Regions from separate parts of the Homo sapiens genome. Here all the other regions are linked to region 2. The links come from fine-mapping of genetic effects on gene expression. A gene starts in region 2. Each other region holds a variant in brackets. All regions are shown on one strand. Distances are between the middles of the regions. Region 1 overlaps NOMO1 (NODAL modulator 1). Region 2 holds the start of PDXDC1 (pyridoxal dependent decarboxylase domain containing 1). Region 3 has its middle 19 kb from the start of NOMO1. Region 4 has its middle 44 kb from the start of MIR3180-4. Region 5 overlaps MPV17L-BMERB1 (MPV17L-BMERB1 readthrough). Region 6 overlaps RRN3 (RNA polymerase I transcription factor RRN3). Region 7 overlaps PDXDC1 (pyridoxal dependent decarboxylase domain containing 1).

Region 1 (4,313 bases), 86 kb after region 2:
TCTGAATGTGTCTGTGCCTACGTAATTCATAGGTTGAACCCTAATCCATAATGTGATAGTGTCAAGAGGACACCCTTTTTAGGAGGTGATTAAGTCAGGGATTAATGCCCCGTAAGAGTGGCCTGAGGGAACTTGTTTGCCCCTTTCCGCCTTGTGGGGACACAGCTAGGTGGCACCATCTATGAAGCAGACAGCAAGCCCTCGCCAGACCCCAAATCTGCCAATGCCTTGATCTTGGACTTCCCAGCCTCTAGTACTGTAAGAAATAAATGTTTGTTGTTTATAAGTTACCCAGTCTAAGATACAAAATAGCAGCCCAAATGGCCTAAGACACACGGTATATCCACACAGAGGAATGCTGTGTCGTTATCAAAAAAGGAAAAAGGAGGATCGGAGGATATTGTTCCACTTACAGTTACATTTTTTGAAAACAATAAAGTTCTTATTCTGCCCACTGAAAAGGCCTAGAAGCAACAACCAACACAGTAGCTATGAGGCCAGATTTTTGTTTTTAATGCAGACTCCTGTGCTACACTTTCACCCCGTCAAGTTCAGAATCAGCAGTCCTGAGGCTGAGCCCTGGACTCTGTTTTTGCTATTGCTGATGTGTCTGTTTAATCATCAGGTGACAATACTGCATCTGAGCTTTAGGAATCACTAAACAATTTTATCAAGAAGGTAAAAGATACGTGTATGTTTTGTTTGTTCCACTGTTCCAGCCTATCGGATACAGGACAGACCGTATGCAACAGATACACATATTGCAAATAGTAAGGGCCACATATTGCAATGAATTAAGCGATAAGTTAAGTTTCTTTTAACCCACAGGTATTCTGTCCATCTGTTGTTGGTTTTTTTTTCCTTGCAATTTATTTGTCAAACAAATCAGGCTCCAGGTGGTTGTCCTGCATCCCTGTGGAGTCATTTGCGTGCTCCTGGGTCCTCCCTATTTCCTGTAAAGTAGCAGTTGGTTCTAGAGGTTTGCGTGGCCATGTACCATGTGCTCCCTCATGGAGAAGCACACGCCACACCAGCGATAGTGGTGTCCCTCCTCCCCCAAAATCATTCCTGAGCCACCGATCTAAACAATTACACTGCTCTTATTACCAGTTTCCTCCTCAAAGGGAATCGCAGGCATCAGTGCTCAGAAAAGCTAAAAACAATCTGGGGAAGCCCAGAATCCAGAAGGCAGAATGAGAAAGTGACCCAATGCCAGGAGCCCTTTAAATATCTGCCCTGCAACCTGCGATCTGGAGCACAGGTTGTATGGACATGCCTTCTTTCGCCACCCCATGGATTGTTTGGTTTTGTTTTGTTTTGTTTTTTTTCTTCTGGAGAAAGGGTCTCACTCTGTTACCCAAGCTGGAGTGCAGGGGCATGATCATGGCTCATCGAGGCCTCAACCTCCCAGGCTCAAGTGATCCTCCCACCTCAGCCTCCCGAGTAGCCGGGACTATAGGTGCGTTCCACCACGCCCGGTTAATTTTTGTATTTTTTGTAGAGTTGGGGTTTTACCGTATTGCCTAGGCTGGTCTGAAACTCCTGGGCTCAAGAGATCCACCAGCCTTGGCCTCCCAAAGTGCTGGGATTACAGGCGTGAGCCACCAAACCCAGCCCATGGGTTTTTTTTTAACTCCCTCTTTTACTTACCGTGGGATTAAAAATCAAGGTGATGTGTTTATGGTAGCCCACTGCGGTGAAAGAAACTTGAGGCAAGATGTAGTCATACTGGGATCTGGGGAGTGTGGAGTCCAGAAGCACAACATAGTTCTGTGCACACATGGGAAGAAGTTATTTTTACAAGGACAGCTCTGGCAAAGCAAATGAAAACTAAAACCTAACGTATGGCTGTGATGTAAAGAACTTTATGTTTTTAAAGAAATCCCCAAGACTACACATCCAAACCAAGGTTGCTGCCTTCAAAGTATCAACCTCAGCGGGCTATTCCATCAGTGGCGGGCATG[T/C]GTCCCCAGTGTCTCTGAGACTGTGGCTTCTGATAAGGCTGTCAGAGCCTGCAGCCTTTTTATGAGTACCCAACCTTGACAATTACGGTCCTCTGAGGATCTGACTTTATGAAACACAAAAAATTATTATGAGCCAATTCTGATGAGGGAGGTACGTGATACAACTGAGGATCCACAACGGGGCTGACTTCAAAGGGACGATGCTTGAGAGGCTCGTAAGCTGGCAAATCCTAAAAATACAGCATCCCTGGAACGGCACCAGGGGCAGCCACAGCTCTGTGTGCTGAGCACCGACCAGCTGCCAGGCACCATGCACATTGCATGAGACCCATCACAGCTCTGTGTGCTGAGCACCGACCAGCTGCCAGGCACCATGCACATTGCATGAGGCCCGCGGCTGCTTTGCTTTCTACCACTGGCAAGGTCGGGATCATCACCCCGTCTTATAGACGAGGAAAGTCAAGCACGAAGAGACTAAGAGTAACTTGCCCAAGGTCACTCAGCTAAGAAGGCTGCCACACATCTATGAAGGCTCTGAACTCAGGGGAAGTGTGACCCCAAAGCCCAAGATGTTTCCGCATCGCTGTAGGAAGTGACTATTTCAACACCCCTGGAGAAAGAGGAGGAGAAAATTCCGTGACAGCCTGTTTCATTATTTTGCAGCCATTTTCCACAGAGAAAGGCCAGAGTAGATCATCTTCACGGCAGGTGGTAAGGAGCCAGGAGAGGAAACGTCACCCTCTAGGCTCACACTTGACATCCTCAGGCTAAGACCACCAGAAAAGAACCAAATTCTTTGCAAAGTTTGCACTCCCCACACCAACTACAAGTTAGCTCTGTCCAAATAGAATTGATAATAAGCACTTTATAATCAGTAAATGACGGCCAGAATAATGGCTGAAAACTTCCCAGTTCCAAGGAGGGAGACATCCAGATTCATGGAACCCAAAGGACACTGAAAAGGTGGAGCTGCAAGTGTTCTACACGACACACGTTATAATCAGATTATCAAAGACAGAGAGAACGTTCAAAGCAGCAAGAGAAAAGCAACTCATCTCATTCAAGGGATCCCCCATCATGAGGAAACTGTATTTCCTTAAACTCAATAGCAGAATGTTAAATAGAGGAATTTTTAAAAATTACAAGGCATTTTTAAAAGTGGACTTCTTAGCAGGAAAGCATGGGGTGATATGTTCAAAGTGCAAGAGTCGATCATGCCCAACAGTAGGCCTTGGTTAAATAAATCATGGCGTTTCCTAGTTTATGGACTACTGTCCATAAAAATCATAGTATGAAAGATTTGGCCAGGCACGGGGGCTCACGCCTGTAATCTCAGCACTTTGGGAGGCCGAGGCAGGTGGATCACGAGGTCAGGAGATCAAGACCATCCTGGCTAACATGGTGAAACCCCGTCTCTACTAAAAATAAAAAAAAAAAAGAATTAGCCGGGTGTGGTGGCACACGCCTGTAGTCCCAGCTACTTCGGAGGCTGAGGCAGGAGAATGGTGTGAACCCAGGAGGCGGAGCTTGCAGTGAGCCCAGATTGCGCCACTGCACTCCAGCCTGGGCGACAAGGCGAGACTCCGTCTCAAAAAAAAAAAAAAGAAAGATTTGATGATGAGGAACAGATTTGTGATAAATTCTTCATTGAAAAGCACGGATTACAAAACAATGTACAAAACAGTGTCAGTTTTGAATTATTAAAATAAATGTCTATTTATATTTATACATGCATGCGCACACGTGCCTGAAAAAAGACCCAAAGGATACCAATCACCGTGTTAGCAGTGGCTATTTCTGGATGATGGGCTTATGTCTTCTTTTTCCCAAAATCTCCTGCCATGAATATGTATTCTTTTTGTAAACAGAAAAACAATGAAGAAAAAATAATCCCTACAGAACCCAACCTCTTTTGATTCAGAGAGCGTATTTCTGCAGAGTGGTATTTAGGGAGAAAAGGAGAGAACTGTGCTTCCTTAAACTAAACAGCAGAATTATTAAAACAAAGGCAGAAGGTAGAATCCGGCCACAGGCATTACCTCGCCGTCTCTGAGCAGTGGGGGGAAATGGAAGAACAGGGACTGGCCAAGGGAAACTGTCTGGATTGGATTGTCGAGGTTTTCGCTTTTGTAAAGCTTGACCTGGAGGGAGAAACAAAGTCAGACATGCTTTGAAACTGAAACACAATCAATATTTCATAGCAGACATCCTCAGGACAGCCGCTTTCTGGGTGGGTGTCTTTGGAAACATGGATATTTGAAAAAGAAAGCTCCCTCCATAGACATCACACATCCCTCTGTCATCTGAGACTCCATCCAGTTATGTATCATGCACAGAAATTAAGATTCA
Region 2 (4,313 bases):
GGATTTCTCAGCCTCAACACTGCTGACATTTTGGGCCAGAGAATTCTCCAGCGTGGGGGGCTGTCCTGTGCAACGTAGGATGTTTAGAGGCGTCCCTGGCCTCTACCCACTAGGTACCGGCAGCACCTCCCTGCCCCCATTGTGACAATCAAAACTATGTCCAGAGATAGCCAAATGTCTCCTGGGGAAATAAATTGCCCCCTGCTTTAAGAACCACTCATCTGGACAAACTCAAAGTACCAAAAGGTAGACACCCTGCTAATCAGACGACCGGAAAGACTTTATTCCCAGCCAGGAAAACACGTAACATTCACCCCAGAGATGGCACAAGAAAACCATATTATCTTTTTCTTGTCTTCCACCCAATTTATGCTAAGCAACCCAGGAGTAGGCTATACCACTGTGAGCACATGAAGACATCTGGCCCAACCTTTACAATTATTGCCTTCAACTCTCCAGTGACAAGTGAACAAAATCTACAGCAGCTGCTGCCTTGAAAAAAGACAAAATATATTATTCCTACCAGCTCAAAATTAAAATGTAGCCGTCTTAAAACACGAGCATTGCTCCTGAATGCCACATGCATGAAAAACCGGGTATGCACTGGATTGGACAAGCAGACTCCCAAGCTGGAACAGACAGAAGGGCTTTGAGGGAGGGCAGAATGTCAGGTACCGAAAGCAGGAATCCGTGAAGAAACCCAAACTGGTTTCCATTTACAAGCCCTAACACTGGGACAATGAGAATCCGTTTCACATGGTAGAGCAGTCAGCCTGGTACACCACGCTGCCGTTCCCCCAAGGGGAAACCAGAGGTAGGCTCTGTTACCAGTGGATTTCGAGTTGACTCGGGGATCCCTCCTCGCCACTGGAATGGGGGAGCCAGGAAGTTGTGGAGCAGCTGCGATCCCCAAAACTCAATTCGCAATCTACGCAACACCCACCCCTTTCTGGAACTCAGAGGTTCTCGCCCGGTGATCGCAGGCTCAGCATCAGAATCACCTGCGTGGGGCGGAGTGGGAGCGGGGCGGTGGCGGTTAAACACGCAGTTCCCGGTCCCGCCCCCAGAGGTTCTGACCCCGGGACTGAACCTCCGCATTTTACCAAAGGCCCCAGGTGATTCCCACTCAGGCTGAAGTTGGAAAACCACTGCTTTGGCAATTTTCATTCCTAACTCGGAGACCAAGAAAAACCTACAGGTTTGCAGCTGGCTCTGAAATAACTGCGGCTTCTTTCCGGGAGCATCTGGGGCCGCCAACGGAGAGCTCCCGGTCCTCCGAAAGGGCCAGCCGAGCTCAGGCCGGCCACTCGCGGAACCTCGGCAGGGCCCAAGGTCGGCCCCGCGGTCCCAGTCCTGGGCTCCGGGCCCGTCGCGGCCCCCACCGAACCCCGCCCAGCCTCTTCGGCCCACGGGGACCCAAGAGACACCCGGCCCCGTGACGCGCCCGGGCCCCAGCCGCCCTCCCGGCGAGGCCTCCTCAGGCAGGGCCTGTCAGCCCGCGTCCCCCTGTCCGGGTCACAATGGCAGCTCGCGACTGGGAAACAGTTGCCTCGGAAGCGGGAGCCCCGGGCCGCAGCACCGTCCCCATCGCCCCCTCCCGGCACGGACCTTCTCCAGGGACGCGTCCATGGCTGAGGCGGCCGGTGGTGGCCTGGCGGTCCCGGGCTCTACTTCCTCCTCCCGCGCCCCGCAGCTCCTTCCACGCTGGCAGCGCTGACGTCCCCCGCGCCCGCGGCCGGCGGGGCGGAGAAGAGGAGGAGCTGCCAGGCGGCGCCGCGGGCTGCCGAACCTGATGGTTGAGAGGCGGCGGGGCGGGGCCCCGTAGCGCTGGGCGGAGCCCTCTGGGATTCCGTACCTGGGCGCCACGCCGGCCCTCCCTAACGTGCGCAGGTGAAGGGGGGAGGATGCCCGGTGGATTGTTCACCAAACTCTTTCCAGCAGCCTGTTGCAATCATCAAGGTAGAAGTATAATAATCACAAAGTACTATTCATGGAGTGAAAGGCTGGAAATACTAGTGACGCACCTCACTTCCGGGCCCAGGCTTCCAAGTCTCCCGCCTCACCTCCCGCCGGCATCCCTCGAGAATGGAACAGGCCATTCGCCAAGGAGGCGGTGAGCGAGTGGGCAACCTTGCGCATGCGCAGGACTCGCAGCGTCCTCGGCGCCCGGGGACTTGGGGGTTTTGGGGTTGGGGGCTGCTTAGTGAACGCTGTTCAGAGAAGGCACTGATCTAAGCTGAGGTGTTGTCTCAGACCTTACCGCCGAATTCTAGACGGAAAAAATTGTTGTAACAACCGGTCCAGCCTCTTTCATGTCACAATTATCACTTGTCAGGTAATGGGTAGTAGTAATAATGATAATATTAATACATCAGCTGCTGTTCTTCCATTTTCCTATTTCAGCAGCTCTAGGAGATCATTATCCCCATTTCGCAGTGCCGATCTAGGTAGGATTCAGACCCAAGCCCCATGAGTCCACATACTGCTTCCACTCCTACTTTACTTTAAATGTTTTAAAAAGTTAATTTTTTATTAATTTTTTTATCTTGTTAACCGATGAACTGAAGAGAAAAAAAATTAAAATCTCATTTTAATAGAGAAGGTAGGGGTGTCTCACTATGTTACCCAAGCTGGCTTCAAACTCCTGGCCTCAGGCGATCTTCCCGTCTCAGCTTCCCCAAGTGCTGGGATTACAGGCATGAGCTACCACGCCCGGCCACTTTTGCAATTTTACTGCAATGTGTTTCGAACGAATGGGGAGGGCGTACATTTGCTTAGTAGATTCCTCCCACCTTAATGTGGGAAACTGATATAGACTACCACAGTGGCAATCAATGGAACACTTCACCTCTGCGATGACGCTACAACCACAATCTTACTCCTTTTCTCTCCTGTTTTATACTCTTCGTCCCGAAATCTGTGTAAACAGGGTCACATTTTCAGCGCAGTAACTCCATGTTTTGAGCTATCTACGTTGTATTTGGTAAATTGCCTGGTTATGTTAATAAAATTATTTTCTACCAAAAAACCCTTGTGTGCTGGTTTAGACTGTACTGTGGGGATTATTCTGACTCTCTAAAGAGCTTTCCAAACAGAAGGAAAGATAGATTTATGTCTTTCAAGAATTGAAGATTGAATGTACCCCTGCTTGAGCAAAACAAGTCACTTTTCCAACGTGTTATGAAATTTTTCAAACGTAGAAAAGTTTAAACAGTTGTACAGTGAACAACCATATACCCACTACCTAGATTCTACAGTTAATTTTCCCTATATTTGCTTTAATCACATATGCATCCATATATCCATCCATCGATATATGTTAGTACATTTCACCTCTGAGCACCTCAGCATGGGTATCATTCAAAACTAGTAAATTTTACTAAAGTCACCTCCAAGTTTCTGTGGATTACATTACAAAGTATAATAGATTCTACAAAACAAATACTAGAGAGAAAAGTTAACTTTACTGTTTTAAAAGTAGACTTTGAAAACCCAACATGAAAAAGTGGAAATAATCAACCGTATTATTTATTATATTTAGCCAAACATTTATTGACTGCCATCTTGGACAGTTGTGCTGGAAATAGTATGTAAAAGAATAAGAGGCTGGTTCAAGAGCAGCCTGGCCAACAGAGTGAAACTCCGTCTCTACTAAAAATACAAAAAATTAGCTGGGCGTGGTGGCAAACACCTGTAATCCCAGCTACCTGGGAGGCTGAGGCAGGGGAATCACTTGAACCCCGGGGGCAGAGGTTGCAGTGAGCCGAGATTGTGCCACTGCGCTCCAGCCTGGGCAATAAGACGAGACTCCATCTCAAAAAACAATAAAAATACAAATAAGAGGCTGGGCCGGGCGCGGTGGCTCACGCCTGTAATCCCAGCACTTTGGGAGGCCGAGGCGGGCGGATCACGAGGTCAGGAGATCGAGACCATCCTGGCTAACACGGTGAAACCCCGTGTCTACCAAAAATACAAAAAGAAATTAGCCGGGCATGGTGGCGGGCGCCTGTAGTCCCAGCTATTCTGGAGGCTGAGGCAGGAGAATGGCGTGAACCCGGGAGGCGGAGCTTGCAGTGAGCAGAGATCGCACCACTGCACTCCAGCCTGGGCGACAAAGCGAGACTCTGTCTCAAAAACAAAATATAATAAAAAATTTAAAAATTTAAAAAAGGCTGGGCGCGGTGGCTCATGCCTGTAATCCCAGCACTTTGAGAGGCCGAGGTGGGCGGATCACCTGAGGTCAGGAGTTGGAGAACAGCGTGGCCAACATGGTGAAACCCTCGTCTGTACTAAAAATAGAAAAATTAGTGGGT
Region 3 (4,313 bases), 160 kb after region 2:
GAGCCTTGGTTTCCCCATGAGTCAAAGGAAGCAAGTAAACTCCAGCTGATGAGACTGTGTATGGCAAGAATGTCGCATGTGCTCAGGGCAGGGTCAGTGCTCAATAAAACCAGCTCTCATCTCTGCAAACCAGAGAACCCTGGCCAAGGGGGACTATGAACATTCCAAATGAAGAAAAACAGTGGCTCCTAGACTCATTGCCCAGAGGAGGACTATGAACATCTTAGCAAGTCTCCCCCGAGGTTTTCCTAGAATAGATGTCTCTACGTAGTTAATAAAAACATACATTCAAGTTTTGCAGCTTTTTGCTCCACTTTACACTTTAAGTTGAACGTTTACACTTCCCATTCCAAGATCTTCAGAAACATGTTTAGAAAGAGAAGAATATCCCAACAACAGTCTGTTTAACCTCTTCCCCTAATGCTGAACTATTGTTGCTTTAAGCATACATTTTCTGTGTGTGTTTCAGATGTAGTTTCCTTAGGAAAGATTCTCTATGCTGTGCAACAATTCCCCATGTGTCTCTTACATTTCTGCACATCTTGTGTCAGCGTTTGTTCTAGACCGTCTTCATAAGGATGTTTGTATAGCTAATAGCATTGGAAGATAGGGCTAATATAGTAGAAGACAGATTTATTTGCTGATTAGGATTATAACGATAATATCTCCAGACCAGGCACAGTGGCTCATGCCTGTAATCCCACCAATTTGTGAGGCTGAGGCAGGCAGATGACCTGAGGTTGGGAGTTTGAGACCAGCCTGGCCAATATGGTGAAACCGCCGTCTCTACTACAAACACTTAAAAAATTAGCTGGGTGTGGTGGTGGGTGCCTGTAATCCCAGCTACTTGGGAGACAGGTGGGAGAATTGCTTGAACCCAAGAGGCAGGGGTTGCAATGAGCTAAGATCATTCCACTGCACTCCAACATTGGTGTGACAGAGCAAGACTCTACCTCAAAAAAACAAAAAACAAAAAAAGAAGAAGAAAAAGAAAAAGAAAAAGAAAGGATTATAATGACAATGTCTCCCTCCATCCAGGGTAAAGGTTGAAAAGACCAAGATTCCTAAACTTGGGGTTCCTCAGGTGTGATGCAAATCCACTGCAGGCACAGATTCTACCTGGATCCATCCGTGTATTACTCATTTCTCACACTGCTAATAAAAACATACCCAAGGCTGGGTGTGGTGTCTCACACCTGTAATCCTAACACCTTGGGAGGCCGAGGTGGGCAGATTGCCTGAGCTCAGGAGTTTGAGACCAGCCTGGGCAACATGGTGAAACCTCATCTCTACTAAAATACAAAAAATTAGCCAGGTATTGTGGTGCACACCTATAATCCTAGCTACTCAGGAGGCTGAGGTGGGAGAATCGCTTGAACCCGGGAGGTGGAGGTTGCAGTGAGCCAAGAATGAGCCACTGCACTCCAGCCTGGGCGACAGAGTGAGATTCTGTCTCAAAAAAAGAAAAAAAAAAGGCTAGGCATGGCTGTAATCTCAGCACTTTGGGATGCTGAGGTGGGCAGATCACCTGAGGTCAGGAGTTCAAGACCAGCCTGACCAACATGGAGAAACCCCATCTCTACTAAATATACAAAATTAGCTGGGTGTGTTGGTACATGGCTGTAATCCCAGCTACTCAGGAGGCTGAGGCAGGACAATTGCTTGAACCTGTGAGGCAGAGGTTGGGGTGAGCTGAGATCCTGCCATTGCACTCCAGCCTGGGTGACAAGAGTGAAACTCTGTCTCAAAAAAACCAAAAAAACAAACAAACAAAAAACATACCCTAGACTGAGTAATTTATAAAGGAAAGAGATTTAATTGACTCAGGGAGGCCTCGGGAAACTTACAATCATGGCAGAAGGGAAAGCAAACATGTCCTTCTTCACATGGCGGCAGCAAGGGGAAGAATGAGCAAAAGAAGAAAAAGCCCCTTATAAAACCATCAGATTTTGTGAGAACTCATTCACTATCATAAGAACAGCATGAAGATAACTGCCCCCATGATTAAATTACCTCCCACTGGGTCCCTTCCATGACACATGGGGATTGTGGGAACTACAATTCAAGATGAGATTTGGGTGGGGACACAGCCAAACCATGTCAACCTGTGTCACCCTTGAGGGACTTGGGGGTCAAAGGGAACTGGTGCAGACATGAAGCTCAAGCTTCCTGTTGTACCATGAAAAATAAAGTCCTTTATCTCTCAATCCAGAGTCTCATGTCTTCTGCCCACATCCATAAAACTCGCTAGCCTCCATGTAGGATAATATCTTAGACCAGCACAGTTCTTGACACTCTAGAAGTGAATTTGTTGGATCAAAAAGCATGAACAATTGCTAAAACTCTTAATATGTCTTGTCAATTAGCTCTCCAAACAAATATGAGTCATTGCCTGAAATCTCTTTTGTCCTCAGGAAGGGATAGAGCTGCTTGACTCAGATCTCCCAGGTGGCCTTAGACCGTAAT[G/A]TCTTCCTTTCGTGCAGAGCTCTTACCATCCTAAGCCACTACTCCTACCTAATATTCTATAAAAAGCTTTTTCTCCCTACCCAGTGTCTCCAATGAGCTGACTTTCTTTTCTGGATTACTCTTTTATGTAATAAAAAGTAGACATGAGGGTCAAACAGAAAGGGAAAAAGGGGAATTTGTTTAATTTCTACCAAGTGCCAGGCATAGTACAAAGAACATTTAGATAAGGCAGAAGGCATTAATTATTTTTATCTACCCAGAACCCCCTGCCCCACCTAAGCACCCCAGCCCCTGACCTGGCCACGTGGGTGGCTATGTGACCCGAGCTGAACCAATCAGAGTCCTTCCCTGGGATCTTTTTCACATCATAACCACATGAGAAGGTCTCCCATTATGAAACAGAGAAGCTTGTTGGCAGCCATGGTTCTAGCCAAGGATGGAAAAAACAACCAAAAAAAGAAAAGAAACAAAAAAAACCCACCATGGTAAAAATATATATATATAAAAATGAAAAAGATATGACAGACAGACAGACATGGGGAATGGTCTCTTTCCAGTTGCCCCTGCCACTCAACTGCTCTCCTACCTTCCTGGATTTGGTTATGAGAGTCAATAAATTATCCCCTTTTATTGCCTAAATGACTTCCATATGAGTTTCTGCTCCTTGCAACCAACATAATCTTGACAATTAATAGTAGCTAGCATTTTGTGAGTGTTTACTGTGCCATGCCCATTAATACACCTAATCCTCTCTACAATTGGACAGGTAAGGTGCTTTTAGTAACCTCCAATGTACAAAAAGGAAAACAAGTTGGGTGAAGTGAAATGACTTGCTCACAGTCGCTGGGCTAACAAGGGGGCAGAGTCAAAGTTTAAAGCCAGAGCCCATACTCTTCCCTATTGTATAACACAGACATGCTGTCTCTGTTCCCAGTGCTGGGGAATGCAGAGAACTGGGGACTGAAGGAAGAGCAGGCGTTCAGGTAAGCATTAATCAGGGGACCTTCCACAAGGGAAAAGGGAGTACTGGCCCAGTTGAAGTCCAGCCAGCACTCAGCGTGGTCAAGGATGGGGTGGTGCTCTCTCCAGCCATTCAAGGTGCTGAGAAAAGAACAGAACTTTCATCTGAGGAATACAAGCCTTTTAAATTATTAGGCCCAGAGAGGCAATAGAACGAGATAGCAATCATGTCCTACATACCCCCTTTGAGCTCGGTATTCATTTCTTAAAACTGCTTGCCATTGCCACAAGTAGCTATAAATTAATCTAATAATGCCCCCACTGGATGCTATAACCCACACCTTATAGCTTAACAATGTATAGCCAATCACTCATCAATGTTATTTCTGAAAACCAGTGAGAATTCCTGACAACCAACTGTGTACCAGCCCACTCCATGTCCCCCTTTTTTGCCTTTATAAATCCACTTGTAACTGCTGCTAATTGGAGTGTATATTCAGGGAAACTTGAATCTACGCTCCCTGGCTACAGTCCTCAAGCTTGGCCCAAACAGAGTCTTTACTTATATTAATTTTGCCTCAGCTTCTTCCTTTTAGGTTGACAGTGCTACAGGCTGAATTATGTCCCCCTAAAATTCAAATTTGAATAAATGTTCAAATATGAATTTGAGGCCAGGCACAGTGGCTCATGCCTGTATCCCAGTACTCTGGGAGGCCGAGGTGGGCAGATCATCTTAGGTCAGCAGTTTGAGACCAGCCTGGCCAACATGGCGAAACCCCATCTCTACTAAAAATACAAAAATTAGCCAGGTGTGGTGACGCATGCCTATCATCCCAGCTACTTGGGAGGCCAGGATAGGAGAATCACTTGAACCTGGGAGGTGGAAG
Region 4 (4,313 bases), 220 kb before region 2:
ATTGAGGGGCCAAGAGGTGGGTCAGCTTCACCAAGATAAGAGTAATTACTGGCCAAAAAAAAAAAGAAAAGGAAAAGAATTTCAGATAGAATAAGTGGATGCAGCCTGTCTGCTTGAGCTTTGCTGCTAATTACCAGACTGCTATCCCTCATTCAGAGGGAAGAACTCTACTCCAGCTGAGTTTCAATTTAAAATATGAGGTTGGTGATCAAACACAAGCTTCACCCAAAACAATGACGTTGGAAGAGATGGCTCCGATGAATGAAGGTAGCTGTGATGGAGCTTAATAAAATGAGGGTTTCAAGGATGTGGTATTTCTGTTTTCATTTCACAATAATAAAGTCATGAATGAGAGAAAAATATGCTGGTTACATTACTTTAAAATACCTTGGCAAAAATCTAATTTCTTATTGATTAGTTTCCCATCGAAGGGAAGGCCTGTAGATAAAAGAAAATTGACTGCTGAGAATTCTAAAATAAAGAAAGTAAATGAGGGAAGATGTTTAAATTTTTAAGAGGAAGAAAAAGTATAATCAATGTCCCCAAATATGTCACTTGTACAAGTACTGCTGGGACTGAGAGCTAAGCTGTTCTTGATCTGATTGACTTACTTTCATTGACACCAATATTTAAAAAATGTAAAATCAACAGACTGGCTTTGGAAAGCAAAGCCCATAGAAAGATGTTCCAGGTACCACGGAAAGTAAAAGCATGTAGGAGTGAGAATTATTCCTGGAAATTGGGTAGGGAATTATTTGATAGGTTACTGTATGCTCGTGACTTTTGGTTGCAAGCAATAGGAACCTGAAAACTGGTTTAAACCAGTGGTTCTCAATAGGAGGTGATTTTGCCCCTTGGGACAGTTGGCAATGATTGCAGCTGTTTTTGGTGGCCATGACTCGTGGGTGAGAATGGCTCTAGAAGCCAGGAACATTGCTAAACATCCTGCAATGTACAAGCCAGCCCCCATCCAGCCAAACACTATCAATAGTGTTGAGGTTCAGGAACTCAAGCTTAAACAGAAAAAGTAGAATTTGTTGATTCACAACTGAAAAATCCAGGATGAATCTATTTGGATCCAGATGTTCAAACTGACATCAGAAGTGGCTTTTTCTCTCAGGCCTGCTACTTTCCTTGTAAGATTTATTTTTGGGGAGTTTTTTTCCCCTTGTAGTCCCAAGACAGGCTTCAGCAGCTCAGCTGAAGGCTGCTGCCAGGTTAGGGGTTCTAGTGACAGAAGAGCTTATCTTTCTCCTTGCTTCTCCCTAGGAATTCTGAGATATACTCTTATCTTTTTTTTTTTCACCTTTTAAGTTCAGGGGTACACGTGCAGGTTGTGTAGGTTTGTTACATAGGTAAACATGTGCCATGGTGGTTTGCTGCACAGGTTATCCCATCACCTAAGTATTAAGCCCAACATCCCTTAGCTATTCTTCTTGATGCTCTCTGTCCCCCACCACTCTGACTGACAGGCCCCAGTGTGCATTTTTCCCCCCAGGTATCCTTGTGTTCTCATTTTTCAGCTCTTGCTTATAAGTGAGAAAATGCAGTGTTTGATATTCTGTTCTTACATTAGTTTGCTGAGGATAGTGACTTTCAACTCCATTCATGTCCCTGCAAAGAACATGATCTCATCCATTTTTATGGCTGCATAGTATTCCATGGTGTATATGTACCACATTTTCTTTATCCAGTCTATCATTGATGGGCATTTAGATGGATTCCGTGTCTTTGCTATTGTGAATAGTGCTGCAGTGAACATACAAGTGCCTGTATCTTTATAATAGAATGATTTATATTCCTTTGGGATATATACCCAGTAATGGGATTGCTGGGTCTAATGGCATTTCTGCCTCTAGGTCTTAGAGGAATCACTACACTGTCTTCCACAATAGTTGAACTAATTTACACTCCCAGATTGACTCTCATTTAACTAAACT[G/C]TCACATGATCATCCCTGAACCACTCCTTGTGAGGATGGAGTATTCTGATTGACTAGGCTTGGGACACACATCCATCCTTGACTCTGGGGACAGAGGTGTTGAATTGATACCAGTTACACCAGTGTGCTGGTGGGCTGAGAGGGCAGGAAGGTGCTTTACCAAAAGGAAAAATGAAGTGCTATATTCAGAATTAGAGAGTAGATGCTGAGCAGCCAACAATCAGATGCTCACTACATTTGTTTTCTGCAAAAATTCTGAGGAGTGATGGTGTGGGGGCCACTAGGACCCTCTACAACATCTCTCTCTCTTCCCCTGTCATCCAAAAAACCTTCAGAAATACACCTATTGTAGTCTCTCTCTCTCCTAACACTCACGTTGTTACATTGTCATAAACGTATTTATCTACCTATCCACCTGTTCCCTTAGGCTTTTCAAGACCTAAACACAGGGATGATGTCTAATTCATCTTTGTGTTTCCAACACCTTGCATAGAGTAGAGCACCTAGTAGGCTAAAGTGAAACTCTTCTTTTTCAGTAGAATGTCAATTTGATCCTTTTAGACTATCCATCATGCATTAATCAGATGTTTATTGTGCAGCTACTATGTGTCCCCCACTCAAACCCTGGGGAATAAGCAAGAAACAGGATGCAAGTGTGGAATGTCACATATGGTAGGGTGGCAGCCATCTTACGAGTGATCCAAAGTGAGTTACACAATGCAAAGGGAAGTCCTGAGAGCTATGGAAACCACAGCAAGGGTCCACTTTGGAGTGGGAGTCTTTACAAGCGATGCTCAAAGGGGGCAGCCTGGAAGATAAGTGAGATTTAGTTTTGCAAAAGGAGCGGGTGGAAGAGCTTTCTATGCAAAGGGAATAGCCTGTGTGAAGGCCTTGAGATGGTGGTGGGGTCCTCAGTTCCGGTATTATGTCCTGTTAGCAAGATAGGGTTACATTTTAGGTCTGATTTAAGGAAGGGTGGCCTCAGCTCTCCACTTTGATGGGCCTCTGAGACAGTGATAATTCAATTGCAAGGAATAGAAACCCATTCAAAGAGATTAAAGTGGATATGAAATTTTACTGTCTGGACACACAAGGCTCTCTGGAAATCCGACGTATGCAGCTGGACCTCATGGGACTTGGAATGTTGTTAATCAGCCGCTTTCTCCATTTCACTCTCTGGAGCTTACCTCTGCACATCTGCTCCATTCTCTTCTCTGCAGACTGGCGCCTGCCGTTGGAATCTCAGGGTTTGCTGTTTCCCAGTTTCTACTTGCCCAGGGCCCTGGGACTTCTTCTTCATGACCTTACAGCTCCAGCTTCTAATGCACTCTGATCAATTGCGCCTCTATCTGAATGTAAGAGTTTCCCAGGTGTAGGAATATGATAGGTCCGGGTAGTAGGAGGTGTACACTCTGGTCCAATCAGATGTGGCCAGGTGAAGGTGTCAGGTGGGTGCCTCTGCTGTGTGTGGGCTAGAGAGCATCTCAGAGAAGTCATGCAGGTAGGGAAGCACCTCTCTGGTTCTTGGTGGAGCTCTCTGGAGTGGTATGGCTAAACACTGAAGAAGATGATGAGGATGTCGCTGCTGTGCTCAAAAGGGCCCAGCCTTCTTGTCATAATCGTATACTTGTTATCCTATTTAACACTCATGATCATCCAGTGAAGGGTTAACACTATTCTACAGAGGAGACAACTGAGATACAGAAAGGTGGACAAACATTGCTTCAAAAGTTATTTTTATGAAATGTTAATTGTCTCACATATCTGGATTCCAACCTGAGGGAAAATGTCACCCCAGATAATAGCCTGGAGTTCCATAGCCAAAGTAATTATCGTTTCTCTCTCCTTCTCACTTAACATACTCCAGCCACACAGGTATTCTTCTGGTTTCCTAAATACTCAGCCTTTGCATGTGCTGTTTTCTCTGCCAGAAATTCTCTTCCCTCCCACTCTTTACTAGGTTAACTTTTCCTTATCCTTCAGGTTTTAGTGTAGACATTACTTCCTCAGGGAGATTTTTCCTGACTCCCTGAGTAGAATCAGTTTCACCCTCTTTATTCTGGCTTATGGCACTCTGATCTCTTCTCTTAATGTTTTATCAGAATTTTAATCTTACAAGTTTTGCACAATTACCCTGCCTAGACTGTTAACTCCTTGAAGGAGAGGAATCACATCTGCCAGGCAACTAGTAGGTGACCAGTAAATAATGATTAGATTGGCCAGGTGCAGTGGCTCACACCTGTAATTTCAGGAGGCCGAGGTGCATGGATTGTTTGAGGTCAGGAGTTCGAGACCAGCCTGGGCAAATGGACAAACCCTGTCTCTACCAAAAATACAAAAAGTTAACCAAATGTGGTGTTGCATGCCTGTGGC
Region 5 (4,313 bases), 490 kb before region 2:
TTACAGAGTTTGACTCTTCATTGACAAGAAAGTGAAAAAACAAGCTACGGACTAGGAGGAAATATTTGCAAACCACATACCCAACAAGGACCTGTATTTAGAATACATAAAGAACTCTTAAAAGTCAACAGCAGAAAAACCCCAAATAAACCAATTAGTAAGTGGACAAAGGACATGAACAGGCATTTCACTGAAGAGATTATACAGATGGACATACAAATAAGCCCATAAAAAGATGTGCAACAGCATTAGATATAAAGAAAATGCAAATTAAAACCACAAGATGTCACTGCACACCTATCAGACTAGCTAAAATAAAAAATAATGATAACACCAAATGCAGGTGAGGATGGGAAGAAACTGAATCCCTTGTGCACTGCCAATGGGAATGTAACATGGTACAACCACTCTAGAAAATAGTTTGGCAATTTCTTATAAGGCTAAATATGCATTTGAAGCAACTCAGTAACTGCACTCCTGAGCGTTTATCTCAGAGAAATGAAAACTTATGTTCACACAAAAATTTGCATAAGAGTATTCATAGCAGCATTAAGCATAATAGCCTGTAACTGGAAATAATCCAGATGTCCTTCAATGGGTAAAACAAACCATGGTACATCCATACAATGGAATATTACTTGGCAATGAAAAGGAATGAATGGCTGATACACACAGCAACTTGGATGGATCTTGAGAGAATTACGGTGAGTGAAAAAGCCAATCTCAAAAAGGTTATATACTGCATGATTCCATTTCTTTAATATTCTTGAAATGACAAAATTATGGAAATAGAAAACTAATTGTTGTTGCTAGGGGTTGAATGGGGCAAGGTAACTGTAACTATACAAAAGTAGCAGGAGGAACCTTTGTGATGGAACTGTTCTGTATCTTGACTTTGTTGATAGTCACACAAATCTAAATATATGATAAAATTGTATAGAACTAAATACACACACACACACACACAGACACACACATAAATCTGGTGAAATCTGAATAGGATGAATGGATTGTATCAATGTCAATTTCCTGTCTTTGATACTGTATTTAGCTGTCCAAAATGTCACCATTGGGGTAAAATGGGTGAAAGGCATACATAGATCTCTGTATTATTTCTTACAACTGCACGCAAACTACAATAATCTCAAAATAAAAAGTCTTTTTTTAAAAGACAGGCCACAAGCTGAAATTTATAATACACAAACATACAAAACAATCGGGAACAAAATACAAAAAATACCTATGACAATGACAACACAATAGAAAAAAAAAGGGCAAAAGGGTACGACCTCAGGATTCACAGAAGAGGAAATTCCAGCTAATAAACCTATGAAGAGATGTCTAACCTCATTGGAAATCAGGAAAACACAATAATAAAATAACAATGAAATACTACTTTACATCCATCAGATTGGCAAACTTTTAACAGTCTGGAAAGATCAGGTTGGCTGGTGAAAATATAAGGAAATGGTGATTATTACCACCTGCTGGGACAGCCATAAATTTATAGAGTCACAGTTGGATAGCAATTTCTCAATGTTTACTGAAGTTTAGTATGTGCATACTGTCTGCTTAGCACTTTCAATTCTAGATAAAAACCCTGCAGAAACTCTTGACCCAAAAAGGCATTTATACCTGGATGGCCATGATAGCAATGTCTGGTAATACTGAAAAATGGAAAACAACCTATTATCAGTGGAAGATTGGTTGAAGAATTTGTGGTATATTCACCTATTAGAAATACTTTGAGCAGTTAAAAAATTAAAAGAATTGATCTACATGTTTCAACATGCATAAATCCTGAAAACATGTTTAGTGGCAAAATAAGCTACCAAAGGAAATGTATAACAGGATATCACAGATTGTTTATGACTATGCACATAATACAGTAAAAGCAAATGTGGAAAAGATAAATACATATTAATTCCATGACAAGGGTCATTTCTGGAAAGAAAAAGGACTGAGTAGGAGTCTCCAGCTGAATCTTTAAGGTTTTGTTTTATTTTTCTAAAAAGGACTAATACAAAGATCTTAGGGCTGGGTGCGGTGGGTCACAGCTGTAATACCAGCACTTTGGGAGGCCAAGGCAGGCGGATCACCTGAGGTCAGGAGTTTGAGACCAGCCTGGCCAACGTGGTGAAACCCTGTCTCTACTAAAAATACAAAAATTGGCCTGGAATGGTGGTGGGTGCCTGTAATCCCAGCTACTTGGGAGGCTGAGGCATGAGAATCGCTTGAACCCAGGAGGCAGAGTTTGCAGTAAGCCGAGATCATACCACTGCACTCCAGCCTGGGTGACACATTGAGACCCAGTCTCAAAAAAAAAAAAAAAAATATATAT[C/ATATC]TTAGCATTGACCAAATTTGGATGATGGATACAAGGTGTCAGTGTTTGGGGTCGGTTTTGTTGTTTAGCTTTTTATTTGGAGAGAATTGCTGATTTATATCCGTTTGTATGTCAGAGAGGTCCTAAAAAACCTTCACCCAATGTTCCCCAGTGATGACATTTTGCATAACTGACCTTATTCAGATTTCACCAGTTTTACATCCAATTCATTGGTGTGTGTGTGTATGTGTGTGTGTGGTTCTGTGCAATTTTATCACATGTACAGATTCAGGTAACCAACCACCCCAATCAAGACACGCAACTGTTCCATCACACAGATCTTTCATTTGCTCAAGGGTGTTAGGTCTTCATCTATGCTGGCTTTGTCAGAGGCATTTGAACCAGAGTGACTCCATCTTGAATAAGGGTAAAATAAGGCTGAGACCTACTTGGCTGCAACCCCAGGAAGTCAGGCATTCTTAGTCCCAGGATGAGACAGGAGGTCACAAGATACAGGTCACAAAGACCCCACTGATAAAACAGGGTGCAATAAAGAAGCTGGCCAAAACCTGCCCAATCCAAGATGGTGTCAGAAGTGACCACTGGTCATCCTCACTGCTCATTATACACTAATTATGATGCATTAGCATGCTAAAAGACACTCCCACCAGCACTATGACAGTTTACAAGTGCCATGGCAACTTCTGGAAGTTACCCAATATAGTCTAAAAGGAAGAGGAATTCTCAGTTTCAGGAATTCCCTGTGCCATTTCCGGAAAACTCATGAATAATCCACCTCTTGTTTACCATACGATCAAGACATAACCACAAGAATTGTCAACCAGCAGCACTCGAGACTGCTCTGCCTACAGAGAAGCCATTTTTTTAGTTTCTTCTTTTTTAAAAAATTAGAGACAGGGTCTCTCTATGTTGGCCAGTGTAGTCTTGAACTCCTGGCCTCAACCAATCCTCCCGCCTTGGCCTCCCAAAGAGCTGGGAGGTATGAGCCACCATACCTGACATTCTTTGGAATCCTTTTTTTTTTTTTTTTTTTTAAGATGAAGTCTCACTCTGTCGCCCAGACTGAAGTGCAGTGGACCAATCTCAGCTCACTGCAACCTCAGCCTCCTAGGTTCAGGTGATTCTCCTGCCTCAGTCTCCTGAGTAGCTGAGATTACAGTCGCCCACCACCACACCTGGCTAATTTTTGTATTTTTAGTAGAGATGGGGTTTTGCCATGTTGGCCAGGCTGGTCTCGAACTCCTGACCTCAGGTGATCTGCCCGCCTCGGCCTCCCAAACTGCTGAGATTACAGGCATGAGCCACTGTGCGCGGCCTTGATTCTTTACTTCTCTAATAAACTACTTTCACTTTACTCTATGGAGTTGCCCCAAATTTCTTCTTGCACAAGATCCGAGAGCCCTCTCTTGCAGTCTGGATCAGGACCACTTTCCAGTAATAGTTTTATGCTTCAAGTTTTTTTTTTTTTTTTAAAGCATACACAAAAAGAACCCCAATTTTGCTTGATGATGCTGAGGCATCCCAACATTGGAAAGTCCCAGGTTCCAATGGATGGCACAGCCTCACAGCTAAGGCAGTTGTGTCAACAGCAGCAGGAGCTGGGGTGGGGATGGGGGTCAGGATTGGGGAGGGTTCCTTGAATATGTTCTCCCAAAGTGACATCTTTTGGGGAGCATGTAAGGTGAGAAGTTACTACGATTCATTGTTAAGGCTACACTGAAAATATATTAGAGGAGGCCACGTGAAAGCTACAGTCTCAGAGTGTGAGTAAGACCTCAGCAGTCAAACGACGAGGCAAGGGAAGGTGGTTAAAGTGGGGGGCATCTTTCTGTGTGTCTCCACAAAGCCCAACTCGCACAGGCTCCTGCCCAGCTTCTCATTCACTCTCCACACTGAACCTGACCACACTTCTGTGATAACAGTGGTTCAAAGGATGCCTTCAAGCGTATTTCAGGCCAGGTGATGTAGCTTA
Region 6 (4,313 bases), 100 kb before region 2:
TGAAAGGCACTTCTTACATGGTGGCGGCAAGAGAAAATGAGGAAGATGTAAAAGTGGAAACCCCTGATAAAACCATCAGATCTCTTGAGACTTATTCACTATCACGAGAACAGTATGGGGGAAACCTACCCTATGATTCAAATTATCTCCCACCAGTCCCCCCCCAGCAACATGTGTGACTTACAGGAGGAGTACGATTCAAGATGAGATTTGGGGCCAGGCGCGGTGGCTCATGCCTGTAATTCCAGCACTTTGGGAAGCTGAGGCCGGTGGATCACCTGAGGTCAGGAGTTCGAGACCAGCCTGACTAACATGGAGTAACCCCATCTCTACTAAAAATACAAAATTAGCTGGGCACAGTGGCACATGACTGTAATCCCAGCTACTCGGGAGGCTGAGGCAGGAGAATCTCTTGAACCTGGGGGGCGGAGTTTGCGGTGAGCCGAGATCTTGCCATTGTATTCCAGCCTGGGCAACAAGAGCAAAACTCTGCCTCAAAAAAAAAAAAAAAAGTGATTTGGGTGGGGACACAGAGCCAGACCATATCAGAGCTAGAATAAATGTTGAATTTGTTGAGGCTGCCTGGCATAGAGCATCATGTGATAGTTGTCGATTTTATATAAGTATGTAGTAAAAGGGGCTTGGTTTATTATATTTAAATTCCTTCATGACCTAGGTCAGTTTACAGGCTTGCACCATAATTGTGTATTGTGTTGGGGTGTGATATAAGGCACTAATCTGGACACCTTGAACATGCGTATATCAGATGAATTTCCATCCCAAAATAACATAGTTGTATTTTTTAAATCCTTTTATTCTTTTTTTTTCTCCCTTTGTTATAGGTGAATGCATCCCGGCAGGGTATTGAAGATGCTGAAGAAACAGCAACTCAAACTTGTGGTGGGACAGATTCCACGGAAGGATTGTTTAATATGGTTAGCAGTTTATTAATGAAAGTGGAGATGAAGTTTATCATAAAGGGTGGAAACAGCTAGTGCTGCTCATCTTTGTTAAGGCTTTAGATTGAAAGAATTAAAATAGTTCAGCAAACTTGAAAACGATTCCTTATATGAGTAATTTGCTGCCATGTCATTTAGCACTTAGCATAGTTGGTCTATTTCCAAGGCTTTGAATTTGGGTTTGGTGAAGTATGTTTCACTTTTGTTCTTGTAACTTTCAGTGTTTGTTTTTGTAAGCCAGATGCTGTCTGTGAGGGCGTGGTTAATAGAAAAGCATACCTGTTTAATTTCTGCATTTTACCACTTGTACACTTTATAGCATTACTTCTTTTGGGTGGTATCTGAAGTTGGGTTCAGTGGAAGGAGAGTCTGAGACAGGGATTCAGGTGCCCTTGGGACAGAGGGTGTCAGGGAGCAGAAGAGGGCAGGGGAGCTAAACGGGGGCCGGGTCTCACTTGGGAGGTCGCTACAGCCTGCTCCCACCAGGCATTCTGGGGCATGGATTGGTCTACAGAGTTTGTTCCCAGCTTGAGACCAAGGAGATGTCCTTTTCTGATGCCTTGTCAATCAGTCATTGGTTCTAAGGGGGAGGGGCTGGAAAGAGTGCAAGGGTGGTCCTGGCTCCTTTCTGCTCAGGGCAGCTCTGGAGAAAGTAGGCGGCTGTGAGCTATTGGCCGCCAGTACTCACAGCAGTGGGGAGGTGGATATCCCGACCTGCAAAAGGGGGCCCGGCACCAAAAGCACCCGCCATGGTGGGCACCAGGAGCAGAGGTAGGGGGCATCTGTGATTTTTGCATGGATAGGTCTCATTGGGTCTTCTCAATGAGAATCAGAAGCTGGTGCTGTGAGTCTTGGCTTTTATTTTAAATTTCACTGGTGGTTCTGATTCACATCCCTGAATGAGACCCCTGCCTGGAAAGGTGTCTGCATTTCTTTCTTTCTTTTCTTTCTTTTTTAATTTGAGACAGGGTCTCACTCTGTTGCCCAGGCTGGAGTGTGGCAGTGTGTGATCTTGGCCCACTCCAGCCTCGACCTCCTGGGCCCAAGTGATCTGCCCACCTCAGCCTCCCCGAGTAGCTGGGACTACAGTGTACCACCGCACCCAGCTACTTTTTTTCTATTTTTGTAGAGACAGGTCTCACTGTGTTGCCCAGGCTGGTCTCAAGTTCCTGAGCTCAAGTGATCCTCCTGCCTTGGCCTCCCAAAGTGTTGGTAATTATAGGCGTGAGCCACTGTGCGTGGTCCATTTCTTTGTTTTAGTTTAGTTTTTTTTTTTTTTTTTTGGTGGGGCACAGAGTCTTCCTCTGTTGCCCAGGCTGGAGCACACGAACTCGGCTCACTGTAGCCTCCTCCACCTCCCAGTTCAAGCT[A/G]TTTTCCTGCCTCTGCCTCCTGAGTAACTGGAATTACAGGCGTGCACCACCATACCTGGCTAATTCTTGTATTTTTAGTAGAGACAGAGTTTTACCATGTTGGCCAGGCTGGTCTCAAACTCCTGACCTCAAGTGATCCCCCCACCTCTGCTTCCCAAAGTGCTGGGCTTATAGATGTGAGCCGCTTTCCCCAGCCTCTTTGTTTTATCTTTTAAGGGAAATAATCACTTATGACAGTTTTCCTACTAAACCACTTTGACATTGAATTTTTTAATGTTAGTATTTACTTTTTGTCTTCAAAGGATGAAGATGAAGAAACTGAACATGAAACAAAGGCTGGTCCTGAACGGCTCGACCAGATGGTGCATCCTGTAGCCGAGCGCCTGGACATCCTGATGTCTTTGGTTTTGTCCTACATGAAGGATGTCTGCTATGTAGATGGTAAATCACAGTAGCTACTGTTTATTGAACACCTGCAGTGTACCTGGCTTTGTGCTGGGCATTTTCCATCCATTATCTCTAGTAATACTAAAAATCCTGTAAAAATATCTATTGAGTATGAGTTTAAGATGATTTAAAGAGGTCAAGTTACTTGCCAGTCACATAGCTTGAAAATGGGACTGGGATTCTGGCTGAGTTATATTTGTCTTCTGTCTTTTCACTGATTGTTGTATTGAAAGATTATATATGGAGTTTGGCCAGTTTTAGATCAAATTACGCTCAAGTTGCTGAATGCACTGAAGAATGATGTAGGGTGCACTAATATATGGTGCTCCGTTATGTATTGAGTTTAGAGGGTCTTTGCCTGGCACCATTGTTGTGCCAGTGTTAGTACTATATGTGCTTCTTGACTTCATGGAACTTTAAAGGCTTTGCCAGGCGAAAACAGAATTTTTTTCCATTCACATTGCTAAGATTTAAGATGAGCTCAGTGAGTCAGAATAATAGAACTGGAATCTGAGTTGACTGCATTACTGTTTTAACGGTCTTGCTGTTATAAAAATAATACATGTTGATTAGAGAATTTGGAAACTACAGGAAAGGATAAAAACAATTTAAATGGCCACATTTCTACTCTTCAGAGAACCATTGTGAGCATTTTGAAGTTTGACTTTTTTCCCTTTTCTGTTAGCGTCTGTATATGTAGGAGAGTATTTTTTAGTGAATTTGGGTGTCACACTAAACACAAGTGTTTCATAATCTGCCCTTTACATGGATGCTGAAGATAAACATTTTCTCATATCATTGCCTGTTTTAAAATAATTGTTATTGAATCCCAGCACTTAGGCCAAGGTGGGAGGATCACTGAGGCCAGGAGTTCAAGACTAACTATCCTGGGCAACATAACAAGACCCCATCTCTAAAAAAAAAAGTCGTAATAATAAATGTTGTTGGTCACATGGGTTTAACTGTCTTTTACTGTTTTCACCATGATAAGTAACAGTTATAATGAACATACTTGTGCCTATATATTCAGCTGTTTACTAACAGTAAAATGATCGGATTAGAGGTCTTTTGCTACACGAATGATAGAATTGCTCTTCAGAAGGGTTTGCATTTCTGACCTTGCCACAGTGTGTGAGGTGAGGGCCTGCTTCCTTGCAGGTGTTAGATTATTATATTCAGAGGAAAATCTGTGTAAACTAAAAGTAGCATTTTGTTTTAATGGTATTTTAATGGATAATGTCTGTCTTTCTTTTTTTTTTAAATAGCCACGGTCTTACTCTAACCCAGGCTGGAATGCAGTCGCACAAACATGGCTTACTGCAGCCTTGACCTCCTGGGCTCAAGCGGTTCATCCGCCTCAGCCTCCCATGTAGCTGGGATCACAGGCGTGCCACCATGCCTGGCTAATTTTTTGATTTTTTGTAGAGACAGAGCTTCCCTGTGTTCCCCAGGCTGCCCTTGAACTCCCGGGCTCCCTCTCACTTTGGCCTCCCAAAGTGCTGGGATTGCAGGCAGGAGCCACTGTGCTTGGCTGGAT
Region 7 (4,313 bases), 59 kb before region 2:
TCTTAAGCTCTCCGGTCCTTCTACCTGTGAGTGGTCATCTTCTGGGTGTGGGACCCCTTTCTGGAAGGCCTCGGTCTGGTCGGTGTGCTGAGGGCTGGGAGCCCCTGGGTGTCCCTCAGTGCTGCTGGCCTCGAGGGTGATCTGCTCCGGCCCACTGGATAGGCGCTCCACCTTTTCTAAGTCTTCAATGTGACTGACTGAGCTGGTCTCACTCAAAGCATCTGAACCTCGCAGGGACCTTTTAAAAGGCTTCTGGCCTACAGAAAGGGCAGACAGACTGCGCTGAAACTCAGTGAGGATACTTCTGCAACACAGGCTGTCTCTGCAACAGATAATTGCTTTATTTCACAACACAGCTTCAGCAGAAACCTTTACTGGCTCTGAGGTGTTTTAGGAGATGAGAAAACCGAGAGCTGCTAGCTTGACACCAACATGCTCCCCAGGCCGGGGAACTCTAAGGTCATCTTCATTAGGAAACGCCCAGGAGGGTAAACACCACAGTGACAATGTCATCTTTCAAGACCCCAACTTCCCCTTAGCGCACTACCGTGGGATTTCTTCAAGGCTGAATCCCACGGCTACCAAGATGGTTAAAGAGATGGTAGTAGTTGGTCTTAAGAGAAATAGACCTCTGGAGTTCAAGAACCCAGAAAACAAACGCAAGTAACAGTCAACAGGGGAAACCTGTTACCTGAACTCGGTGCAGAGGCGTCACTTACCTGGAAGCCTCTGCTTGGTGCGACTGCCCGAGGGCGTTGGAGGCAGCGTGACTCCTGCACCTTGTGCTTTGTAGACATATATGGGTTCTGTGGACTCCAGAGAGCCTGCGGGAGAGGAGAGGGCTGGGTAGAAGCTACAGGCACAGGCTGCCCTTGAAGACACCACCTGCCCTCACACAGCCTTGCTCCCCAATAACCTCCTTCCAGCCACTGAGCCTGCCACAGACTGGTGGAGAGAAGGGCACTTATGAATGTGCCGTGAGCTAGAGAAAGCCACCTCACAGGGCCAGTACCGCCAGCATCCGCCAGCAGTATGGCGTAAGCACACCCAGGGAGCCAGGCCCAACAGGGAAACGTACTGTAGCCACAAGAAGTGGGTGCCTTTTTGCTGAAGGCTAAGGCTTGGCAGATTAGAAATCAGATTATCTTTTGCTTTCATGACAATGGAGTCATCGTTTCCTGGGAAAGAATGAAGGAAGGGGCTCGAGTGTAGGAAATTATTTCCTTGGTAGAACAGGAAAGGAGTCACGGACTGTTAACACCCTCCCCACATTCCAGCGGCTGAAACGCTTGCTGGCTGCCTGGTTCAAAATAAACCGTGCCAGCACTCCATGCTTCAGTCTCTGCATTGCCACTTGCAAAAGCTGTCCTCTGCTGGGGCAGAACACACATGAAGACAAGAAGTATTAACCCTGAACCAAAATGCCCAAGACACAGCACCCTGAGAGTCTGCACGGCTGAGTGGGCGTGTCCTCATGGCCTTGCGGTGGTGACAGCTGTGGAGAGTGGGTAGCTGCTTCCTTGCTGTTTCAGCCGCCAGGGTGCGGTGGGGAGGAGGACAGGGCACACCAGAACTTGTCTCCTCAGATGTCCGGCCCACACCCAGTGATGAAGAACGGGAACCAGGGCGGGATTCTCAGTGGGAAGTGTTGGGACCCAAGGGCATTTGGTGAAACCTCCCAAGGTCAGCAAGACCTGGGAAGAGGCTATGCCGTCCTACCTGCTGTCAAGTTAAAAGTTCTTCCCTTCTGTAAAGCCTGGACCGGAGAAAACCAATTCAGCACGGAGCCCACTACAGGGATCTGCCGCAACACCCCCTGCAAGACAGGACCAGAGTTCAGGGCCACCTGGCCTCACGGCGGCTCCCCCAGCCTGCTGCCCATCGGGGGCCTCACCTCTTCCAGAAGCCGTTCTTCACTTGCCTTCTGCAGCTCCACTTGAGCTTCCTGAATGCCTTTCCGAACCACTTCTGTCATG[T/G]TTTCCAGAAGCTGTGGCAAGACCAAGAAAGACATTACTTGTTTAAGGTTCTCACCTGGGGCCCAGAAGAGCTAGTAACACAGCACTGAGGGAATTTTTCAAAAGCAGGTCAATGAAATCCTGCATTGAAAAGCCGGCGTAAAACGAACAGAAACTCAAAGACAAGCAGATAACATGCTCATAGAGGCCTAGGCAGACACACCTTGGTGACCAGCCTCATTTGCTACGTATTCTTGAAAACAGAGAAGTCATAAAGTCAGGCTGGAAAGAAACCTTAAGGAGTCCACCCAGAAAGGAATGAAGCTGGCTTCTCGGCCGCATGTCCAATGGCTCGTGTCTCTCTCCTTTCAGAGCAGTCTTACCTTGGTCCCTCTTCTCTCCTTTTGAGTGATTTTTAGGGAAGTAATCATCTGTTTGGAGGATACCTTATCAGCCTTGTATCCTGGTCCTCCATGCTAAGGGACCCACAGCAGTAGGTCTATTCCTGGTGGGAAGTGCTATAGGGAAGGGGTGTAGGGGGAACCACACATACAACAGCCCATTTCATTCACCCTCAGGACACAGCTCCAGAGCAGAAGTCCTCCCTGACCTTGGTGGCAGGGGTGAATGTGTCTGCCTGAGTGTCCAGCTACCCGCCCTCTTCTCTAAGGCAGGGTTACTACACAGCGTGGCTATGTGGATCTTTCCCCCTGAGCTTGTGAGATCACTGGGGCATGGGCTGTGTCAAACCTACTTGGCATCTCTGACACCTGGCACAAGGCCCAGCTTACAGGAAACATTGACAGACTTTGAGAGACAACGAACAGACATCCCAAGGGCAGCTGCTTTCCTCGTGGCCCCTGCTGTTTGGTGGGACAAAACTCAGAAGAGGAATGAACACTGATGGGTGCTACGGACCCTCGAGTTCTCCTCTATCTCCCGGGCTGTGGCCGCAATGGTCTCCACGAGCTCAGCAGCATCGACGTTGTCGCTCGCCATGCCGACATAAAGGCAGCTCTTCATGCTCTTATACTCAGGGCCTGCAAAGGTAACGAGACAAACTTGAGTTTCTCAGTCCTCTGTCATGGGTGAGACGTGGACCTACTCTCCTGTTCAGGGTCCTGACCACACACAAAGGGGTCTCCTCCATGGAGATTCTAAGGGCGGAGAGAAAGGCCTGGCAAGGCTGCAGAAGGGGAGGGAGGTCTCAGAACCGCATCTTCGCCTGGAACCCAGCCCGAGAGGCGCTAGCCCGCTAAGGGATGAGCCGTCGTCTTCAAAGCCGGTTACCAAGTGTCCTTCCAAACCCCACAGCTGACTTACAAAGTAAGCAGTTACCTATTTTAAAGGTTAGGTCAGATTCCAGTTCATTTAACTTCTTCAGGAGTCCAGCATGGATGTTTTCCCCTTCGGGATCTGATTTCAAACTGCTCTTATCATCATTAGCATGTTCATACCTAAAACAACATCAAACCACAGCATTTCAGCTTAAAAGATCAAATGTCTCTTCTGATACAGGATTAGAAACCTCTAAATATTAGCAAGACAATGCAGTGGAACCAGTGGGCAAAAGAGCTACTGCGAGTGTCTCCAGACCACAAACTTTCTGGAAGTGTGCCAGGAGTAAAGAGAAAGTCACAGGAAAGCCTTTTTTTTTTTTTTTTAAAGCAGGGTCTCACTTGGTGGCCCAGGCTGGGGTGCAGTGGCATGATCTTGGCTCACTGCAACCTCCACCTCCTGGGCTCAGTTGATCCTTCCATCTAAGCTTCCCGAGTAGCTGGGACTACAGGTGTGCACCACCACCTCTGGCTAATTTTTGTATTTTTTCTAGAGATGGGGTTTCGCCATGTTGTCCAGGCTGGACTCAAGCTCCTGGCCTCAAGTCATCTATGCTCCTGTTGGCCTCCCAAAGTGCTGGGATTACAGGCATGAGCCACCGTGCCCAGCTGAAAGCCTAAGTCTTTAGTTCCATACAAGGTCTGGAAGTCTCATGGGCAATACAAAAAGAGGTTTGCCTCACCTCTGAAGGCGAGAAAGCAGCCATAGGACTGCACCCAGTTCTCTCCCCGAGAGCTGGGTTCTTTTTCTTACTGATTTGCAATTCTCTATATGCCCTGGATAGTAACCATTCTCAGTGAGTGATATATACCTGTTGGCATCTTCTCCTAGGTAGCTGAGAGTCGGCACCTACAGACAGAACATTCAGCAACTCCCCTCCCTGAGCGCCACGCTGGCCAAATTGCCTGCTTGCACTGTGCTTTTGTAAATGCCCAGAAAACCGAGTTGCATTTTCGTTAAGCATATTGTGACTACACGTTCATCTTGGATTTCTAAGGTGGTTCAGAAAATGACCCACTC

Evidence for each region. PIP is the estimated chance that this variant, and not a neighbour inherited with it, causes the effect.
Region 1: its variant is fine-mapped to the expression of PDXDC1 in whole blood (TOPMed, PIP above 0.99).
Region 3: its variant is fine-mapped to the expression of PDXDC1 in whole blood (TOPMed, PIP above 0.99).
Region 4: its variant is fine-mapped to the expression of PDXDC1 in whole blood (INTERVAL, PIP above 0.99).
Region 5: its variant is fine-mapped to the expression of PDXDC1 in whole blood (INTERVAL, PIP above 0.99).
Region 6: its variant is fine-mapped to the expression of PDXDC1 in whole blood (TOPMed, PIP above 0.99). The same link has a PIP of 0.9 or more in CD4 T cells and lung.
Region 7: its variant is fine-mapped to the expression of PDXDC1 in whole blood (INTERVAL, PIP above 0.99).

The regions. Positions count from the first base shown.
Region 1 is chr16:14,886,553-14,890,865 of GRCh38, reverse strand. NOMO1 (NODAL modulator 1) reads right to left here. Exons shown (of 31, transcript NM_014287.4): 28 at 4,004-4,105; 29 at 1,651-1,770. Among named protein-coding and RNA genes, the nearest start is that of MIR3179-1, 13 kb to the left of the region's middle. The variant T/C (reference allele first, on the strand shown) is at 1,965.
Region 2 is chr16:14,972,516-14,976,828 of GRCh38, reverse strand. PDXDC1 (pyridoxal dependent decarboxylase domain containing 1) reads right to left here and starts at 1,803. Exons shown (of 23, transcript NM_015027.4): 1 at 1,609-1,803. The coding sequence starts at 1,629. RefSeq lists an enhancer at 1,722-2,485 and a silencer at 2,643-2,937.
Region 3 is chr16:14,812,213-14,816,525 of GRCh38, reverse strand. No RefSeq gene overlaps it. Among named protein-coding and RNA genes, the nearest start is that of NOMO1, 19 kb to the left of the region's middle. The variant G/A (reference allele first, on the strand shown) is at 2,467.
Region 4 is chr16:15,196,725-15,201,037 of GRCh38, reverse strand. No RefSeq gene overlaps it. Among named protein-coding and RNA genes, the nearest start is that of MIR3180-4, 44 kb to the right of the region's middle. The variant G/C (reference allele first, on the strand shown) is at 1,941.
Region 5 is chr16:15,463,375-15,467,687 of GRCh38, reverse strand. The region is part of intron 1 of MPV17L-BMERB1 (MPV17L-BMERB1 readthrough); the gene reads right to left. The region is part of intron 1 of BMERB1 (bMERB domain containing 1); the gene reads right to left. Among named protein-coding and RNA genes, the nearest start is that of BMERB1, 31 kb to the right of the region's middle. The variant C/ATATC (reference allele first, on the strand shown) is at 2,342.
Region 6 is chr16:15,073,180-15,077,492 of GRCh38, reverse strand. RRN3 (RNA polymerase I transcription factor RRN3) reads left to right here. Exons shown (of 18, transcript NM_018427.5): 10 at 843-935; 11 at 2,632-2,770. It also overlaps a transcript of PDXDC1 not described here. Among named protein-coding and RNA genes, the nearest start is that of RRN3, 19 kb to the left of the region's middle. The variant A/G (reference allele first, on the strand shown) is at 2,330.
Region 7 is chr16:15,031,960-15,036,272 of GRCh38, reverse strand. PDXDC1 (pyridoxal dependent decarboxylase domain containing 1) reads right to left here. Exons shown (of 23, transcript NM_015027.4): 18 at 3,294-3,412; 19 at 2,874-2,995; 20 at 1,895-1,987; 21 at 1,720-1,816; 22 at 720-824; 23 at 1-257. Among named protein-coding and RNA genes, the nearest start is that of NTAN1, 22 kb to the left of the region's middle. The variant T/G (reference allele first, on the strand shown) is at 1,977.